Homo sapiens: one gene and its partners. The protein of the gene in region 3 purifies or fractionates together with the protein of the main gene of each other region. This does not show direct contact. Each region holds a gene or a part of one and is shown on either strand. Other genes may lie near its edges. The genes, in order: TMOD3, SEPHS1, PPIL3, RAD23B, RPAP1 and SUGT1.

Region 1 (3,500 bases), on a different chromosome or scaffold from region 3:
TATGTACTAATTTCCAAGGCAGGGGCCAAAAGAAATGGTCAAGGCAGAAGGCCAGAAAAGAACACAGATAACCAGAACCAGAAGAGCACAAAGGCCATTGAGAAGAAGGGGCTAATAAAATATTAAATTCCTCAAGTAATGGTATGTCTTCAATCTGCTTCTATTTCATTTCTCATAGGATACAGTACAGTGTTAGACATTTGACTCAGTGCTTAATAAGTACCATATTGATTAATTAACAGAAGCCTACAAGTGAAAAAAGAAAGAGGAGGGAGACTGGGAAGGAAAGAAAAAGAGACAGAGGTAGGAAGAGAGAAGAAGGGAAGGAAGGAGGGGAAGGAAAGAGAGAGAAAAAAGAACAATGATCATGAGTTTATATAAAACAGCCCCTTAGAGGGATCAAAAGCAAGGTTAAACTACAGAAAATATGGGTAAGACCAAGCTTAAAGTTAAAGGAAAGGCAATAGGGCGTAGAGATACTAAAAAAACTGTGGCTGGTATCTACATACTTGTCCTTTCTATTAGCAACAACTAGCTATGTGACCTGGAACAAATCCCTTATCCATACATGTATTCGAATATTACTGATGGTCTATTATTTGATTAGCACTGTCCTAGAGATTCAGAGATAAAACACATTGGTCCCTGCCTGGCAGAATGTTCATTCTAGCTGGGGAGGGACACAGATAATAAAAGTAAGCAAAGTGCAATGTTAGAGGGTAAAAAGAAAAAAGGCACAATAGGGTAGATGGGGAATACTGGGGGTGGGAATGGGGTTGGTATTTTATATAGCACGGTCAGGAAAAGCCTCAACTAGAAGGTGACATTTGAGCAAAGAGTCAAAGTGATAAGACAAAGCTAAGTGGATTATTTTAGGAAGAAAGTTCAAGGCAGAAGGAACAAATGTACAGGCCCTGATTTGGGAGTCCACATGGCATGCTGAAGAAGGCTGTATGGCTAGAGTAGAATGAAAGAAAGGGCAAGTAAATGAGATGAAGTCCACTCATGTGAAGCCTTATAAGGCCACTGAAAGATTTTTATTTTTACTCTTAATGAGATGGGAAGCTGCTAGAGGGTTATCCGAATAGGAATGAGGTCATTTAACTTAAGTTTTAAAAGAATCACTCTTGGTGCTATGTAAAGAACTGACTTTGGGGTAGGTAAAATAGATGAAGGTAACCCAATTAGGAGGCTGTTGCAATAATCCAGGTGGGAAAAGATGGTGGCTTGGGTCAAGGTGGTAGTTGTGAAAATGGTGAGAAGTGGTTGGATTCTGAAATATTTTGAAGATAGGGCCAAAGGTAGGTTTAAGTTGCAAGAAAGGGATGTCGAGAATGATTCCATTAGTTTTTTGTTTTTTTTTTTTTTTTTGCTGGGCGTGGTGGCTCACGCCTGTAATCCTAGCACTTTGGGAGGTTGAGGTGGGCGGATCACAAGGTCAGGAGCTCGAGACCAGCCTGGCCAATATGGTGAAACCACATCTCTACTATAAATACAAAAATTAGCCAGGCGTGGTGGCGCATGCCTGTAATCCCAGCTACTCAGGAGGCTGAGGCAGGAGAATCGCTTGAACCCGGGAGGCGGAGGTTGCAGTGAGCCGAGATTGCGCCACTGCACTCTAGCCGGGGCAACAGAGTGAGACGCTGTCTCAAAAAAAAAAAAAAAAAAAATTTTTTTTTTTTGTTTGCCTGAGCAATGAAAGATTGAAATTGCATTTAGTAAGATAGAAAACAGCAGAGAAAAGCAGGCACAGGATGGAAGTCAGGAGTTTGAGGACTTACATGTAAGATGTCCATTAGACATCCAAGTAAAGCTGCTGAGGAGGTAGCTGGACATGAATACGGAGTTCAGGAGAGAGATACAAACTGTAGATAATAACACTGGGAGTCATCAGCAAGTATATGAAGATAATATATATATTTCTGAGATTACCCAGAAAGTCAGTGTAGACTGAGAAAAGAAGGACCACGTTCTGGGCCATTCCAATATTTAGAAGTTGAAGAGATATGGAGAAACCAGTACAGGGCTTTGAGAAGGAATGTCCACTGAGGTAAGGGGAGCCCCCAAGGGAGTGAGTGATATTCTCAAAGCCAATGAAACAAAAGGTTTATACCATGATCAAGTGGGATTTATCTCAGGAATGAAAGGCTGGTTCAACATATAAAAGTCAATCAATACACCACATTGACAGAATAAAGGACAAAAACCATATGAACATCTCAAGAGACACAGCAAAAGCATTTAACAAAAATCCACCACTAAGGATCCATAAATGGAATCCTCTGAAGATGTTAAAATAATGTGGTAGATCCCTATGTATTGATACAACAAAACTTTAAAGATAAACTGCAGAGTGAAAAATCAAGTTGCAGAACAGCATATACTACATGATTCCATTTATGTTTTAAAAAATTCATAGGAAGGAGGGGGAAGCTGGGAGGGGGAAAAAATTCATAGGAAGGAAATACAGGAAAAAATAAACACAAAAAGCTGGTAAGTAATATACTGCCTAATAGTGAGCTAAAACATTAACTATAAAAAAGGGGTAAATCTTGTTCATAAAAATCACCACTGTAACACACCCTGGGCATGTCATAATTTTGATATTCTCAAGTCGCTTACTTACAGTAGCAACAGGGTCATTGCTCCGGGTGGCTGCAAGACTGAAACATTTCACATGTGTGTTGGTTTCCAAAGCCTTTGCAAAATCTTTTAGGGTTGGAATTGGGATATTCTTGAAAGACAATAACATAAAACATCATTACATTTCAATTTTCATTATATTTAGTTTCCATTAATCAAATATATGGTTTTTTTTGCTTTAAAATGTATTCAGAAATTATACAAACACCTAAGAATTAGTCTACAAATGAATACAAATAATGCAGCTTCCTCCATAATTATCTGACTTATCTACGATGGAGCATTTGCATAAACTACTGACTCAGAGCAGAGCACATATCACCATTTCTCTAGCATTTAGGTTAAAAAAAATTCTCATTATTCTCACCTTTCATTATTCCTTTTATTTATTTATGTATTTTGAGACAGAGTTTTGCTCTTGTTGCCCAGGTTGGAGTGCAACGGCGCAATCTCAGCTCACTGCAACCTCTATCTCCCAGGTTTAAGCAACCCTCCTGCCTCAGCCTCCCAAGTAGCTGAGATTACAGGCATGCACCACCAGGTCCAGCTAATTTTGTATTTTTAGGAGAGATGGGGTTTCATCATGTTGGTCAGGCTGGTCCCGAACTCCTGACCTCAGGTGATCCACCCTCCTCGGCCTCCCAAAGTGCTGGGATTACAGGCATGAGTCACTGCACCCAGCCTTCATTATTCTTTTTATATGAAAATAAAAGTGGATTTACTTTTCTACAAGGAAAGAAATGAAGGAGTCCATCTCTGATGAGTACGATTCCTGAGGCAGACAGACTGTTCTCAGTCACTTAGTTTAAGCTACAAAGCACTAAGAGAGATTAACCCTACACTACTTGAAGGAGAGA
Region 2 (3,500 bases), on a different chromosome or scaffold from region 3:
GTGTCATGTGAACCTGCAGGCTGGCCCTCTTGCCACAGTTAAAACCACAGTCCAGATGTCAGATTTTACATAGATGTCTGTGCTGACGCAGTCCCGTTATGAAAAGATCTATTTTGTCATATGCACTGCTGTGGTGAATATAAGTGGTCTTGATGATTTCAGCCCTTGTCACATTGACTTTTCGCTGTCATGTATTCACTTGATTCGCTGGCAGGTCCCAGTGGGAATTCTTTTCATGGCATCTTTGTGTTTTGGTGACACCCAGGTGGATCCATAAAGAACCCAGCCAACCCGCAGAGGGAGGGGAGGGGCTGAGCTGTGAGGAGAGCGGGGCCCAAGAACCATGTCTACGCGGGAGTCCTTTAACCCGGAAAGTTACGAATTGGACAAAAGCTTCCGGCTAACCAGATTCACTGAACTGAAGGGCACAGGCTGCAAAGTGCCCCAAGATGTCCTGCAAAAATTGCTGGAATCTTTACAGGAGAACCACTTCCAAGAAGATGAGCAGTTTCTGGGAGCCGTTATGCCAAGGCTTGGTAGGTAACCCAGTGTTTCTTTGATGGTCTGCGATCCAATCAGTGAGTCAAAAACTGGATTTCTCGCCTCCCATGTTGCCTATTTATTTTTTATTATTACTTTTTTTGCTTTTATAGATTTGAGGAATACACATGCAGTTTTGTTACATGAATATATTACATAATGGTGAAGACTAGGCTTTTAGTGTAGCCATCACCCAAATAGTGTACATCGTACCCCCTTTATTTTTTTTTAATTTTTGTGGGAAGGATTAGAAGAGCAATCAATGTTATGATTGCTATGTTATGTTCTTGTAACTTATGTAGAGAAAGTACTTGAAACGCATCAAGAGGGGTACTCTTGACAGTTTTTAAATCATGGAGTATGCAATTGAGATTGTTATTACAGTAAAAACTTTTTAATTTTTATTTTCAATTTAATTGAATTGAATTTTCTGTTAGCTGAAGATTAAGCAGAAATACTTTATTCCCTTTTCCTAAAAGGACTCCTAAAATGCTCACATTCCCTTCATTGCCCTAGGAAAGGCGGTTCCAGCCTTAGGGTTCTTGTGCTGTACTTGGATGGCAGTGACTGTGTCAGGAGGGCATTGGGGTTCTCTGCAGGGTGCATCGGGCGAAAAGCGTGTTACGGTGAGGAGGTGGGACTGCTCCAGACCCAGGACTGGATGGATCTGTTCTTGACCCCAGGATGTCATCTGGAACCAGGGCAATGTCTTTTTCTTTACTACATTCCTGATGTCATGAGTGATTTCACTTTTCCCAAACACAGAGCTTAGAAACAAATTCTGGGCTCCTGGGATATTGTTTATTCATGTTTCTTGTGCAGTTTATTAAGTACACAGTACAAGACTGTGATCACTTTTCTTGTGTTCGACGCATAGTTTCGGAGGTTTGGATGTTCGATAATTACTGTGTGACTTGATCAGTTTTCTTCCTTTTTTTTTGAAATGGATTCTCACTCTGTCACCCAGGCTGGAGTGCAGTGGCGTGATCTTGGCTCACTGCAACCTCTGCCTCCTGGGTTCATGCGATTCTTCTGCCTCAGCCTCTTGAGTAGCTGGGATTATAGGCCCCTGCCACATGCCCGGCTAATTTTTGTATTTTTAGTAGAGATGGGAGTTTTACCATGTTGGCCAGGCTGTTCTCGAACTCCTGACCTCAGGTGATCTGCCTGCCTCAGCCTCCCAAAGTGCTGGGATTACAGGTGTAAGCCACCACACCCAGCCAAGGTTTTCATTTCATTTGTTTTTGCCCATTATTTGGTAAGGTTCATTGGTTATGAGCCTGGGGTCTCCTTTACTCCCAGATAGAGAAAGCAGATAAAAGCAGACTTGCTTTTGTTGGAAAGGAAGAAATGTTACACCCCAGTCGCTGGTGACCTGCAGGACTTTGAGGAGCTCAGTTTGAAAACAGTTCCTGCCGTCCAGCTGATGGCCAAGCTGTGGAGAAATACCATGTGAGCGAGCTGGGTTTGATGTTGGCTTATTTGTCGAGAAATGAGAATATACTGAGGAAGCTGTTAGATAACTGTCAAGAAAAAAAGCTATTAATACTTAATGCTCAAAAACCAATGAAATTAAAACATTACGGCATAAAGTAAGAATTACTATTTATAACTTCCTCTGGCACAGTTACTTACTAGTCACTCATATTATGTCATGAATGTCACCCAGCCCTCCTGAGCCTCAGCTTCCTAATCTATAAAATAATAATTACTGTTTGGGGTTGGGTGCGGTGGCTCACACCTGTAATCCCAGCACTTTGGGAGGTCAAGATGGGCAGATCACTCAAGGTCAGGAGTTCAAGACCAGCCTGGGCAAAATGGTGAAACCCATCTCTACTAAAAATACAAAAGTTACCTGGGCTTGCTGGTGTACACCTGTAGTTTCAGCTACTCGGGAGGCTGAGGTGGGAGGATCCCTTGAGCCCGGGAGGCAGAGGCTACAGTGAGCTGAGGTCACACCACTGTACTGCGGCCTGGGAGACAGAGTGAGACCCTGCCTCAAAAAAAAAAAAAAGATTACTGTTTTGCATTGTTGTACCAAAAATGTGTGTAGGTGTGCCATGTATGTCTGTACTTACATATATAATACATGTATGTGTATACCCTCTGTACACAAGTATATATGGTATATATGTATGGGTGTTTTTGACCTTTTTTTTGTTGTTGTTGAGATGAAGTCTCACTGTGTCGCCCAGGCTGGAGTGCAGTGGCACAATCTCAGCTCACTGCAACCTCCGCTTCCCAGGTTCAAGCAGTGATCTCCTGCCTCTGCCTCCCAAGTAGCTGGGACTACAGGCGCATGCCACCACACCCAGCTAAATTTTTTTGTGTTTTTAGTAGAGACGGGGTTTCAAGGTGTTGGCCAGGCTGGTCTCAAGCTCCTGAGCTCAGGTTATCCACCCACCTCAGCCTCCCAAAGTGCTGGGATTACAGGCGTGAGCCACCGCACCCGGCTGTATGTTTATTTTTTTAACTTTTTTTTTTTTTGAGACGGAGTCTCGCTCTGTCGCCCAGGCTGGAGTGCAGTGGCGCGATCTCCGCTCATTGCAAGCTCCGCCTCCCAGGTTCACGCCATCCTCCTGCCTCAGCCTCCCGAGTAGCTGGGACTACAGGCGCCCGCCACCATGCCTGGCTAATTTTTTGTATTTTTAGTAGAGACGGGGTTTCACAGTGGTCTCGATCTCCTGACCTCGTGATCCGCCTGCCTCGGCCTCCCAAAGTGCTGGGATTACAGGCGTGAGACACCGCGCCCCGCCATCTTTTTTTTTTTTTTTTCCTTGAGATAGAGTCTCACTCCATCACCCAGGCTTGAGTACAGTGGTGCAATCTCAGCTCACTGCAACCTCTGCCTCCCGGGTTCAAGGCCCTCCCAGGCCTGATTCTCATGCCTCAGCCTCCCTCCAAGTAGCTGGAATGACAGACGTGCACCACCACACCCAGCTAATTTTTTTGTATTTTTA
Region 3 (3,500 bases):
AATACATATCCACAATCTTGGTGTATAAGGTGTATAATATAATGGTTCTTTTTTTTTTTTAGACGGAGTCTCGCTCTGTCGCCCAGACTGGAGTGCAGCAGCACGATCTCGGCTCACTGCAAGCACTGCCTCCCGGGTTCAGGCCATTCTCCTGCCTCAGCCTCCCAAGTAGCTGGGACTACAGGCACCCACCACCACACCTGGCTAATTTTTTGTATTTTTTGGCAGAGACGGGGTTTCACTGTGTTAGCCAGCATGGTCTTGATCTCCTGCCCTCGTGATCCGCCCGCCTCGGCCTCCCAAAGTGCTGGGATTACAGGTGTGAGCCACCGCGCCCGGCCTATATAATGGTTCTTAACTCTGCCTGCAAAAGAATCATCTAGGAACCTTAAAATATAGTCTAAGTCCTAACCAGCCCTACTGACTTTATTTTTAGGAGGGCAAGGCCATGATCTGTTATAGTTTTAAAACTTCCAGCCAAGTGCAGTGGCTCACTCCTATAATCCCAACACTTTGGGAGGCCAAGACAGGAGGATCATCTTAGTCCAGGAGTTTCAGACCAGACTGGGCAACAGAGCAAGACCTCGTCTCTACAAAAAATCAGAAATTAGCTGGGCACGGTGGTGCACTCCTGTGGTCCAGCCACTTGAGAGGCTGAGGCAGGAGAAACTGCTTGAGCTCAGGTCAAGGCTGCAGTGAACCGTGATCAGGCCACTGCACTCAGCTTAGGCAACAGAGTGAGACCCAGTCTCAAAAACAAACAACAAAGTTCCACAGGTGATTCTGTCATAGCCAGTCTCTGGTTTTCAGCTGGTATATGGAAGCAGTCATTAATGTAATAATTAATACCTAAAAAATTGTTTAGTTATTCATTCAGGAAAAAGTTGACTTTTCAAAAAGTTTATCACCTCCCAGCCTCAACTCCTGTAACAAAACTAATACATTTCCTTACAATAGAAAAGTAAAATGAACCAGCTTGGGCAACATAGTGAGACACCATCTGTACAAAAAATACAAACATTAGCCAGGCATGGTGACATGCACCTGTAGTCCCAGCTACTCTGGAGGCTGAGGTGGGAGGATCACCTGAGCCCAGAAAATTTAGTCTGCAGTGAGCCAAGAATGCATCACTGCACTCCAGCCCAGGGGACAGAACAAGACCCTGTCTCTAAAAAAAGGTTTTAAAAAAAGCAAAAAGAAAAGAAATTACTCCTAGTCTCATCATCCAGAGATAAACACTGCAATGAATTTTTTTCAGAATTTTTGTGGGTACATTTTAATGTAATGGAAATATAATAATACACTTAAACTGCATATTTTGATTGAGTAGACTTTTTTTTTTTTTTGAGTGGGGTCTCGTTCTGTGCATGATCTTGGCTCACTGCAGCCTTGATCTCCTGGGCTCAAGCAATCCTCCCACTTCAGCCTCTTGAGTAGCTGGGACTACAGGCACACGCCACTATAACAGGCTAATATTTGTATTTTTTTGTGGAGATGGGGGTCTCACTATGTTGCCCAGGCTGGTTTCAAACTCTTGGCCTCAAGCAATCCTCCTTACTGGGCTTCTCAAAGTGCTGGGATTACTGTACCCGGCCCTGGTTGAGGATACTTCATTGCTCTTTTTCTAATCATAAAGTTATCATTCTATGGAGATACAAAGTTTGAAAGACCACATAATAAGTCATCAACTGAAGTTATCTCTGGGAAGTGGGATTGATTTTTAAAACTAGGCATGCACTAATTTTTAATTTTAGACAAAAAAAAAAAATGACTCCACAGAGGTTTGAAAAACACAGAAAAATATAACAAAGAAAATTAAAAATCCCTAATTTTACCATGTTAAAGACTATTTATATGTACTACTCTTTAACCTAGTTGTGATCTACCATAGGTATTAAGTCATATTAATACAGGGATGTTCAAACATCTAACAGAAGATGATAAAAGCTGGGTACTGATAATGGGCAACATTGCAACCAGGAAGTTTGATAGTCTTTCCTCCCCACTCTCAAAAAAGGCCACTGTTTCATGTCATTCAACATGAATTTTATGGTGAGATATTAAGTCTCTTTGGTACACTACTAGTTAAACATTTCAGGTTAGATTCAAAGATGAACTCACTTACTATCAAGAGCCACGTGGTGGTGGGATTCCAGTACACATGTCAGGCTAGGATCACCATTTCTCAAGTCTCCCCGACATCATTTGTCAAATGTACAAAAACTATAAAAAAGTATGTTCATTTTGCAATGATGTTAACTTGTATCACTATGACACATGTATCAAAGTTTCCATGCATAACCAAGGCATGAGAAATAGATTTTTAAAGCATTGAGGATTTACCTTAAGATATTCACTGTATTCATCCTCAAACTTCTTGCCCCAAATACTGTTGCCTCCTCTTCCAGTTCCTACATTACAAGTGAAGCAAATCAAAAGAAGTATTTAATTAAATTGAAAACAAGTTCATTTCCCAAAACTTAAGGAATACTTTATAGTTTGACTGCTTAAATATAGATAAAATTTGATATGGCCTTTCCTAATTCCCCAAATTTAACTTCACAGACCTGAAGATTAAAACAGACCTACAAAAAACAAAAAAGAATAACCCTCCTTATAAATATTGTTCATATATATTTAAGTATGAAAAGCTTCACAAATTTGTGTCTCATCCTTGTGCAGGGGCCACACTAATCTTCTCTGTATTGTTCAAATTTTAGTATATGTGCTGCCAAAGTGAGCACAATATTGTTCACATTTTAGGGGTAGGTGCTAATAATTTCTGCTTTAAAATTGCACCATGTAATACTATGCAGCCATAAAAAGGATGAGATCATGTCCTTTGCAGGGACATGGATGGCTGGAAGCCATCATTCTCAGCAAACTAACACAGGAACAGAAAACCAAACACCGCATATTCTCACTCATAAGTGGGAGTTGAACAATGAGATCACATGGACACAAGGAGGGGAACAACACACAGCAGGGCTAGTTGTGGGTGGGGGCAAGGGGAGGGAGAGCATTAGGACGAATAGCTAATGCATGCTGGGCTTAAAACCTAGAGGACAGGCTGATAGGTGCAGCAAACCACCATGGCACACATATACCTATGTAACAAACCTGCATGTTCTGTACTTGTAGAACAGAACTTATTAAACAAAACAAAACAAAACAAAAACTCCACGTATTTAATTCCTCTTCTTTTACCCACTTCTTCATACTATACATTCAGTTCCTTAGATCTTGGTTAATGGAATAACTTACCTGTTGGATCTCCTGTTTGAACCATGAAACCCTTGATATTCCTATGAAATATACAGCCATTGTAGTAATTACTGGCACAAAGAGCCAAGAAATTCTGAAGGGAGTAAAAATGATTGAGAAATGATGCAGCAGAAACCCAGTTAAGACAAAAAACCAATCATATTTACTGAAAACGTGATAGCAGCATATTTAAACTATGACTGTTGTCATTACTTTGGATGTCATTTCCCTGCCTA
Region 4 (2,206 bases), on a different chromosome or scaffold from region 3:
AATTAGCACTTTTGGGGCCAATGGAGAAATGCAGCATTCACTCTCCCTGTCTTTTCCCCTTCCCTCAGCAGAAACGTGTTTATCAGCAAGTCGTGAGTCAAACTGCTGCCTTTTAAAAAACCCACAAAATGCTGATTCAGTTCAAAATTAATGCAAATGTTTCAAAACTGGGTTTCTGATATTTGTAAATGTGTTTCTTTATTAGATAAGAGTGTATTACCATTAAAGTCATTAGTATAATATTGCTTTCAAAAAGAAATGGTAGACAAAACTATAATCCAGCATCTTTTATTGCATTGGAAAGACTGGCAAAGTCTTTTGGATGGGTTGGGAGATGTGGCTGGAAAGTACTTTGGAAAATATACAATCAAGATATCTCATGGCATATTAAAAGAAAAATCTTAATAGCAGTGTTGGCTTTTATTTGGATTTTTTCATCTCAGTTTTTTCTGTGGAATCTCCTTCATTGGCATTGTTATTTAATCATAAACGGGGCAGATGTCTACTTGTTCAGTTTTTCAAATCTGTTTTCCTGAGTATAAATAAGAGTATTTAAAGAAATAATTTGGATTGCTTTTGTTTTTTGTTTCCTTTTTTTTAACCATCTGATACTAAGAAGATGAATTTGCACAGATTTCTCTGCATAATTTCTCAATATCTTTAGCACAGTATGGTGATGATGACTTTTAAGCATTTACATCACGTACTCATAACCTATTATGAAAATAAATGAAACTGGCTGGGTATGGTGGCTCATGCCTATAATCCCAGCACTTTGGGAGGCCGAGGTGGGCAGATCACTTGAGGCCAGGAGATTGAGACCAGCCTGACCGTCATGGCGAAACCCCGTCTATACTAAAAATACAAAAAATAGCCAGGCATGGTGGCGCACGCCTGTGGTCCCAGCTACTTGGGAGGCTGAGGCATGAGAATTGCTTGAACCCGGGAAGTGAAGGTTGCCGTGAGCTGAGATCACACCACTGCCATAAACATGACAGGCTTTTGGACTTTGTATTACCTGTATGTTTTATAATGGATCATGCATAATTTCTCAGGAGAATAAAATGAGAATTCATATATACGTTCATCTTTCAAGTCAGAGCAATGAGTTGGGAAAAGAGGTGGCATTTCTGATCGGATAATGGAATACTCTCATTTATTTTATGACATTCTCTGTCTACTCAGATCATAGTGAAAACTGGAAACAAAAAAAAAAAACAGCCTCTTCTTGGAAAGTGACAGCAGAAGGTGGCATGGAGCTTGTGTCCTTGGACAACAAATCTGGATATACTAGGATTAATTATCAGAAGACAGCTCAGGCCAAGTTTTGATCGTTCCATACAGTACCTTGTTTATCTGCTTCTTAAAGAATCAGCCGAGACACCATAAAAGAAATAGGCTTTTTGTGCCTTTTGCTGTTAATGTTTAATTTACAAACTGTTTTGGTAAATCTCTTAATGTAAGTAGCTATTTGACTTTGGAATTTTGCATTCGAGGTATACTGTCATTTCTTGAAATCTTTTTCTCGTTTAGTTGCTCTGTGGGAAATGTGAGGAAGCCTAAGTTTGTATTTGTAAATTTCTTATGCCATCCTCTAGTCAAATTTTTTTTCATTGTTTAAAAATACGGAAGTGTTCCAATATAATTTTTTCCTGTACTGGATGGCTAGGATTCTAGAGAATTGATTATAAAATATTTTCAATACATCCAACATTGCACTTCTCATTTTTTAAATGATTCTGTCACGTAGAATCAGAATTGAAAGTTGACAATGCTTCTGTCACTGATACTTCTTTTTACTTCAGTAATTGGTGAGTGTATCATATAGGAGGCCCAGGCACTAGATTGACTTTATTGGGTCTCCTGGTTCTTTTCTCAACACAGAGATGGGATACTTGCTGGGATGTTAAGGTTAGTGAGGTCTTCTAGGGAATGCATAAAATTTCCATTGTTCCATACTTGTCTGAAGCAGCCAGCCAAAGCCTGCTGCAAAATGTTCTACCGAAAGTAAGCAATTGGAGGGAATGAGTGTTCCTGACCCAGTCAGTTCTGGTGGATTCTCCAGCCATGAAGTTCAGTTGGCCTCCCCCATCCATTTTCCCCATTTTTTCCCCCTAAGCCAAGGGCTGGCAAACTACAGCTTCATGAGCCAAATCTGGCATATACCTGTTATGTGGTCCATGAACTAAGAGTGATCTTTACATTT
Region 5 (3,500 bases), on a different chromosome or scaffold from region 3:
TTAGTAGAGGTAGGGTTTCTCCATGTTGGTCAGGCTGGTCTCGAACTCCCAACCTCAGGTGATCTGCCCTCCTCGGCCTCCCAAAGTGCTAGGATTACAAGCATGAGCCACCATGCCCGGCCTTTTTTTTTTTTTGAGATGGAGTTTCGGTCTTGTTGCCCAGGTTAGAGTGCAATGGCGCGACGTAGGCTCACTGCAACCTCCGCCTCCTGGGTTCAAATGATTCTCCTGCCTCAGCCTCCTGAGTATCTGGGATTACAGGTGCCCACCACCATACCCAACTAATTTTTGTATTTTTAGTAGAGACGGAGTTTCACCATGTTGGCCAGGCTGGTGTCGAACTCCTGACCTCAGGTGATCCACTGGCCTTGGCCTCCCAAAGTGCTGGAGCCACTGCGCCTAGGTTTTTTTTTTTTTTTAAGACGGATTTTTCCTCTTGTTGCCCAGGCTGGAGTGCAATGGCGCAATCTCTGCTCACTGCAACCTCTGCCTCCCAGGTTCAAGCAATTCTCCTGTCTCAGCCTCCAAAGTAGCTGGGATTACAGGCGCCTGCCACCATGCCTGGCTAATTTTTTTATTTTTTGTATTTTTAGTAGAGACGGGGTTTCCCTGTATTGGCCAGGCTGGTTTCGAACTCTTGACCTCAGGTGGATCAAAGTGCCTCCCAAAGTGCTGGGATTACAGGTGTGAGCCACCGTGCCTGGCCCCCAGCGAATTTCTTTTAAGGTTTTTGTAGAGATGAGGTCTCACTATATTGCACAGGTTGGTTTTTGTTTTTTGTTTTTTGTTTTCAGAGTCTCCCTCTGTCACCCAGGCTGGAGTGGAATGGCACGATCTCGGCTCACTGCAACCTCTGCCTCCCAGGTTCAAGTGATTCTTGTGCCTCAGCCTTTTCAGCAGCTGGAATTAGAGGTGTGTACCACCATGCTTGGCTAATTTTTTTTATTTTCAGTAGAGATGGGGTCTCACCATGTTGGCCAGGCTAGTTTCGAACTCCTGGCATCAAGTGATCCACCGACCTCAGCCTCCCAAAGTGCTGGGATTACAGGCATGAGCCACCGTGCCTGACCTTTAATGCATTATTCAGTTCTGTCCTTAAACTTGTCCTGTGAGGTAGGTGGTATTAACCCTATTTTACTTATGAAAGAAACTGAGGCCTAAAATTTAAAAGAAATTCTACCCAGGTCACACACCTTATAAGAAGCACAGGACACAGGATTTAAACCCAGATCTACCTGGTCTCATATGCCCTGCTTTTTTTTTTTTTTTTTTTTTTTTTGAGACGGAGTCTCGCTCTGTTGTCCTGGGTGGAGTACAGTGACACGATCTCAGCTCACTGCAACCTGTACCTCCCTAGTTCAAGCGATTTTCCTGCCTCAGCCTCCTGAGTAGCTGGGATTACAGATGTGCACCACCACACCCAGCTAATTTTTTTGTATTTTTAGTAGAGATGGGTTTCACCATGTTGGCCAGGCTGGTCTTGAACTCCTGACCTCCAGCGACCCATCTGCCTCGGCCTGCTGAAGTGCTGCGATTTTTTTTTTGAGATGGTCACCGTGCCCAGCCGAGGCCCTACTTTTTAACCACTGTGCTATGTATAACTGTACTACCCTGGTATAGTATACACTATGCTTTATTATAGCTATACTCTAGTATATGTATAGTCTCTTCTACTCTGTGATACTGTTCTATGCTATGCCTCACCCCTAGTGTCTGTTCACCAAAATGCCAGGCACTCAGTCAATCTTGTTACCCACTGTATACTAGCACCTCTATAGAGTATAATACGTGTTAGGGCTCAGTATGGTGCCTTGCCCTGTAATTCCAGCACTTTGGGAGGTTGAGGTGAGAGGATTGCTTGAGGCCAAGAGTTTACGACCAGCTTGAGGAACATCATGAGACCCCATCTCTACAAAAAATAAAGATATAAAAAATTACAGCCAGGTGTGGAGGCTCACGCCTGTAATCCCAGCACTTTGGGAGGCTGAGGTGGGCGGATCACAAGATCAAGACATTGAGACCATCCTGGCCAACACGGTGAAACCCTGTCTCTACTAAAAATACAAAAATTAGCTGGGCGTGGTGGCACACGCCTGTAGTCCCAGCTACTCGGGAGGCTGAGGCAAGAAAATCACTTGAACCCGGGAGGCGGACCTTGCAGTGAGCCGAGATCGTGCCATGGCACTCCAGCCTGGGCGACAGAGTGAGACTCTGTCTCAAAAAAAAAAAAAAAAATTAGCCAGATATGGTGGTGCATGCCGGTAGTCCCAGTTACTTGGGAGGCTGAGGCGGGAGGATTGCTTGAGCCCAGGAGTTTGAGGCTGTGGTGAGCTACGATTGTGCCACTGCACTCCAGCATGGGTAACAGAGCAAGACCCTATCTCTTTAAAAATATATATTTACAGCCTGAGCAACATGGTAAAACCCCGTCTCTAGTAAAAATACAAAAATTAGCCAGGCGTGGTGGCAGGCACTTTTAATCCCAGCTACTCAGGAGGCTGAGGCAGGAGAATCCCTTGAACCTGGGAGATGGAGGTTGCAGTAAGTTGAGATTGCACCACTGCACTCCAGCCCGGGCGACACAGCGAGATTCCGTCTCAAAAAAAAAAAAAAAAAAAAAAAAAAAAAAATATATATATATATATATATATATATATGTGTGTGTGCATAAATAAATTAGCTAAGAGAAGGAAATTCTTTCTGTAAATGCCTTCTTTTTGGCCCTAGTCAACATTAACTTATTCATTCTACAGCCACTTACATTGGAACTGTGACCTGAAACCAAAGGGATAGGCATAGGAACCTGGGCCAGTGGACTGTGAGGGATAGAGGGAAAGGTGGGCAGGTGGGCAGGTGGGCCTAGTGACCCCACAGGTGTGAGAAGGCTGGGTCATTGATGGGCCACAGGAGCACCCAGAAGGCTCAGGCCCAGGCTCGGAAGCAGCTTGTCCTGTCCTTGGCACCCACAGACAGGCGATATTCAGCGGGTTCCAGGTCTGTAGGAGGCCAGGGAGGATCTACCCTCACTCACTCTCCCCTCTACCTTCGCCTCTAGACCCCAGCTTGGTTGCTTTCTTGAGATCTCACAGCCACACGCAAGAGCAAACAGGAGAGACAGCCTCTGAGGAGCAGAGGCCAGGAGGACCCTCTGCTAATGTCACCAAGGAGGAACCCCTCATGTCAGCTTTTGCCAGTGAGCCCAGGAAGAGAGACAAGCTGGAGCCAGAAGCCCCAGGTTTGCAGGAGGCGGGGGTCATATTTTGGTGGATAAAAGTAGGGGAAATTGTCCCTTTTCCTAGGCCTGGCAAATGAGAGAAGAGAGAAGCTTCTGTGCTTTTGGACATCTAACATTAATCCTCATTATTGGCTTCAAGTCAGTCTTCATTGCTGATGCATGTCTTCTTCCTGCACATGCTTCCTGTTTTCTTGTCCTGTTACTGCCCCTTCTCCGCCTTCCCTTTTAAGAGGCAGCAATGCGTGATGGCTGAATCCCACTCCAC
Region 6 (3,500 bases), on a different chromosome or scaffold from region 3:
TAATTGTAGAAACCCAATACCTGTTTTTCTCATCTAAATTATATTTCATATTGATTGCAGATATGAGATCACTTAAAATCGATTAAATTAGCCTTTTGGCATTTAAATCATAGATGAACTTCACCATTAGAAGTAAAAAAAACTATGGAAACACCTAACATGCTCTCTCTGTTTAGTCTGGCTTTGTTTTTTTCTAATGGAGAAGTGAAAGTTTAATTTGCCTTGGTCAGAAGTCTGTTCATTTTAAATTATTCAGATTGCTGAGATGTGAAATCTTAACATTAAAGGTTTTTATGGAGAAGTGAAGTGTACGTTTGGGTAAATTATGAGAGGGTACAGAAGAAACACAGTTTTGAGAGTATTGTGACTTTTAATGTTATATTCTTGAGGGAATATATGAAAAGTATCACAGTGGTGTGGATATCTAGACATATAGAAATTGTGAGAGTCAAGAATATATATATATATATATATATATATTTTTTTTTTTTTTTTTTTTTTTTTTTTTTTTGAGACGGAGTCTCACTCTGTCGCCCAGGCTGGAGTGCAGTGGCGCGATCTCGACTCACTGCAAGCTCTGCCTCCCGGGTTCACGCCATTCTTCTGCCTCAGCCCCCCGAGTAGCTGGGACTACAGGCGACCACCACCACGCCCGGCCAATTTTTTTGTATTTTTAGTAGAGATGGGGTTTCACCATGTTAGCCAGGATGGTCTCAATCTCCTGACCTTGTGATCCACCCTCCTCGGCCTCCCAAAGTGCTGGGATTACAGGCATGAGCCACTGCACCCAGCCGAGAGCCAAGAATTTTTAAATCTGAAAAATACTAAGAGGTTGTGAGTAATTTCAGAAAATTGGAGACTACATAATCCTACTTGTATTATCATTTTATCTTTATGTTATGATAGAGTTTTATCACAGTTCTCTAAAGAAGTGGTTCTTAACTGGAAACGGTTTTGCTTCCCAGGAAACTTTATGCAATGTCTGAAGAGATTTTTGATAATCATGAATGGTGGATGGGGGTTGTGCTACTGACATCTAATGAGTATAAACCAGGGGTGCTACTAAATATTCTATAATGCCCAGGACAGTTCTGCCTAACAAAGAAGTATATGGTCCAAAATGTCAGTAGTGCTGAAATTAAGAAACTTCACTCTTAGTATTTTATGTTACATTCTTACTCTGTACTGTTTTGAATGTTTGCCTTTCTGTTGTGTACCTATTCAGAAAAAAGGATTTTAGCACTGATTATGCAAATGGAAGCTACAAATTAAAAAAGGAGAGGTCTGGGTGATAAGGCTTATTCTCAAACTTGCTTATCCCAGTTTTGGTATGTGAATAGTAGGCCTATTCAGTCAGCAAACAGGACATCTGCACTCTTAGCAAATTCTAGAGTGAAGTTATGTAGTGCCTTGGTACCTAATGTGAAAATCCTGAAGAAACATGAGTCATACCATTCTCTACATTTTCATTTTTCTTTCTTTTTTTAGCGAGAGAAGGTCTCGCTCTGTCGCCCAGGCTGGAGTGCAGTGGTGCGATCTTGGGTCACTGCAGCCTCCACCTCTTGGGCTCAAGTGATCCTCCCACCTCAGCCTCCTGAGTAACTGGGGCTACAGGCACATGCCACCACACCTGACTAATTTTTGCATTTTATTTTTTGCAGAGATGGGGATTTGCCATGTTGCCCAGGCTGGTCTTGAACTCCTGGACTCAAGCGTTCTGCCTGCCTCGGCCTCTGAAAGTGCTGGGGTTACAGGCATGAGCCACTGCGTCTGGCCCCTAGATTATTTTCTTGAGTAATATCTTAATATCATGCCATTGACATTTATTCTTTAGTTATTTCAGAGGTGGCCTTCAGAGGAAGACCTGTTTGGTAAAATTGCTGTTGAGGATATTTTACTTAAAAATAAATTTGTCTTTAAATCCAGGAAACTTTTTTTGTTGTTGTTTTTTGGGGTTTTTTTTTGTTTTTGTTTGTTTGTTTGTTTGTTTCTTTTTTTGAGACTGAGTCTCACTGTGTTGTCCAGGCCATAGTGCAGTTCTCTGTCTCTCAAGTTCAGGTGATTCTCCTGCCTCAACCTCCTGAGCAGCTGGGACTACAGGCATGCACCACCAAGCCTGGCTAATTTTTGTATTTTTAGTAGAGACGGGGTTTCATCGTGTTGGCCAGGCTGGTCTCCAACTCTTGACCTCAAGTGATCCACCTGCCTTGGACTCCCAAAGTGCTGGGATTACAGGTATGAGCCACCATGCCCGGCCAAAATCTGGGAAAAAGTTAAGTTAAACTTTTAGGCTTCTATTTTTATCAGACAGGGTAAAGAATTGTTACCTTTTCCCCTCTTTGTGTGATAAATTGCTTGGTTTTAGTTACTGATTACTTAAAATAATAGGTTACTCAAATCTTTTTGATATAATAGATTTTGATACAATAGTTCTCTAGAATACAGTGTGTGTGAGAGTGTATTTAAATTTTTTATTAATGCTGGTATAGTTGGATTTCTTTTATAAATTAGTAAAGTAGAAATTTTTGTTAAGAAATTTTTAATTTAAGATTTTCAAATTTATCTTGTCTGCAGTTAACTTGAATTAATAAGCTCTTATTTAGAGTACTTTTAATACTTTTAACATATCTTACTATGCACTGTGACTGTTTAAATGTAATCATTGTTCTGTGTCTCCAGAAGTGAATAATTTGTTTATGCATACATTTACACTGTTATCTATAAATATATAATACATCACCTATAGCCTCTCGACTGCCATGTAACTTGGAGATAGGACAAAACTTCACGGAATTTAAAGATGCTTGGTGTTGGTAGGAAAGGCATGGTAACAGATAAAGCCACTGAGAGAATAGTGGACTGAATAGGTATCTGCATTGAAGAGCAAGCTGGGGCTGGGAACGGCTTTTGAACCTCAACTCAGCTCCCAGTTACCAAGCCTCCTCCCCACCCTAACTGATGGCATATTGGGAGTCTGATTTACATCTGATTTTGTTCTGTGTGTGAGGAAGCTTCTCTAAGAGCAGCGGGATTGGGGGAAATGCAGATTATTTGTATCTGTGAAATTAAGGTTGACTGTAGTTAAAATTTTTAAAAAATCAAAATGTTTCATGATTAACAACTAAATGTTAAACTATTGGTATATTTATAACTATAGTAGAGTTGGTGATAAGGTCTGTTAAGACAGGTTTTGTTCGCTGCCGACTCCCCAGTGCCTAGAACACTGCCTGGGATGTAGTAGGTATTCAGTAAGTATTTGTTGATTTATAGGTTGTGCAGATGAGTGATGTTATAGTCAGTTTTTTCTTTCTAGGTGCAGATGCTAATTTCAGTGTCTGGATTAAAAGGTGTCAAGAAGCTCAGAATGGTATGTGGGTCTCCCTTGGTATTTGTTTCAATTTAAAAAGAAGTAAACATCTGAAATTTTTTTGGTTTAAACAAATTTGTTTTTATCTTTATAATTTCTTTTAAATAGTATACGTTTCCTTAGATGTGGACTT

What was found.
Region 1: the proteins of PPIL3 (region 3) and TMOD3 fractionate together in Homo sapiens (co-fractionation; one large-scale study listed by BioGRID). This does not show direct contact.
Region 2: the proteins of PPIL3 (region 3) and SEPHS1 fractionate together in Homo sapiens (co-fractionation; one large-scale study listed by BioGRID). This does not show direct contact.
Region 4: the proteins of PPIL3 (region 3) and RAD23B fractionate together in Homo sapiens (co-fractionation; one large-scale study listed by BioGRID). This does not show direct contact.
Region 5: the proteins of PPIL3 (region 3) and RPAP1 fractionate together in Homo sapiens (co-fractionation; one large-scale study listed by BioGRID). This does not show direct contact.
Region 6: the proteins of PPIL3 (region 3) and SUGT1 fractionate together in Homo sapiens (co-fractionation; one large-scale study listed by BioGRID). This does not show direct contact.

Annotation. Positions count from the first base shown.
Region 1 is NC_000015.10:51,895,653-51,899,152, reverse strand, and holds part of TMOD3 (tropomodulin-3), read right to left. Parts: intron 2,735-3,500; coding exon 2,627-2,734; intron 1-2,626. UniProt on the Homo sapiens protein: Blocks the elongation and depolymerization of the actin filaments at the pointed end. The Tmod/TM complex contributes to the formation of the short actin protofilament, which in turn defines the geometry of the membrane skeleton.
Region 2 is NC_000010.11:13,341,794-13,345,293, reverse strand, and holds part of SEPHS1 (selenide, water dikinase 1), read left to right. Parts: intron 1-265; 5' UTR 266-343; coding exon 344-536; intron 537-3,500. UniProt on the Homo sapiens protein: Synthesizes selenophosphate from selenide and ATP.
Region 3 is NC_000002.12:200,879,078-200,882,577, forward strand, and holds part of PPIL3 (peptidyl-prolyl cis-trans isomerase-like 3), read right to left. Parts: intron 3,359-3,500; coding exon 3,265-3,358; intron 2,412-3,264; coding exon 2,344-2,411; intron 1-2,343. UniProt on the Homo sapiens protein: PPIases accelerate the folding of proteins. It catalyzes the cis-trans isomerization of proline imidic peptide bonds in oligopeptides. May be involved in pre-mRNA splicing.
Region 4 is NC_000009.12:107,330,484-107,332,689, forward strand, and holds the end of RAD23B (UV excision repair protein RAD23 homolog B), read left to right. Parts: 3' UTR 1-1,706; downstream 1,707-2,206. UniProt on the Homo sapiens protein: Multiubiquitin chain receptor involved in modulation of proteasomal degradation. Binds to polyubiquitin chains.
Region 5 is NC_000015.10:41,530,758-41,534,257, reverse strand, and holds part of RPAP1 (RNA polymerase II-associated protein 1), read left to right. Parts: intron 1-3,055; coding exon 3,056-3,235; intron 3,236-3,500. UniProt on the Homo sapiens protein: Forms an interface between the RNA polymerase II enzyme and chaperone/scaffolding protein, suggesting that it is required to connect RNA polymerase II to regulators of protein complex formation.
Region 6 is NC_000013.11:52,659,336-52,662,835, forward strand, and holds part of SUGT1 (protein SGT1 homolog), read left to right. Parts: intron 1-2,139; coding exon of another isoform or gene 2,140-2,235; intron 2,236-3,313; coding exon 3,314-3,367; intron 3,368-3,500. UniProt on the Homo sapiens protein: May play a role in ubiquitination and subsequent proteasomal degradation of target proteins.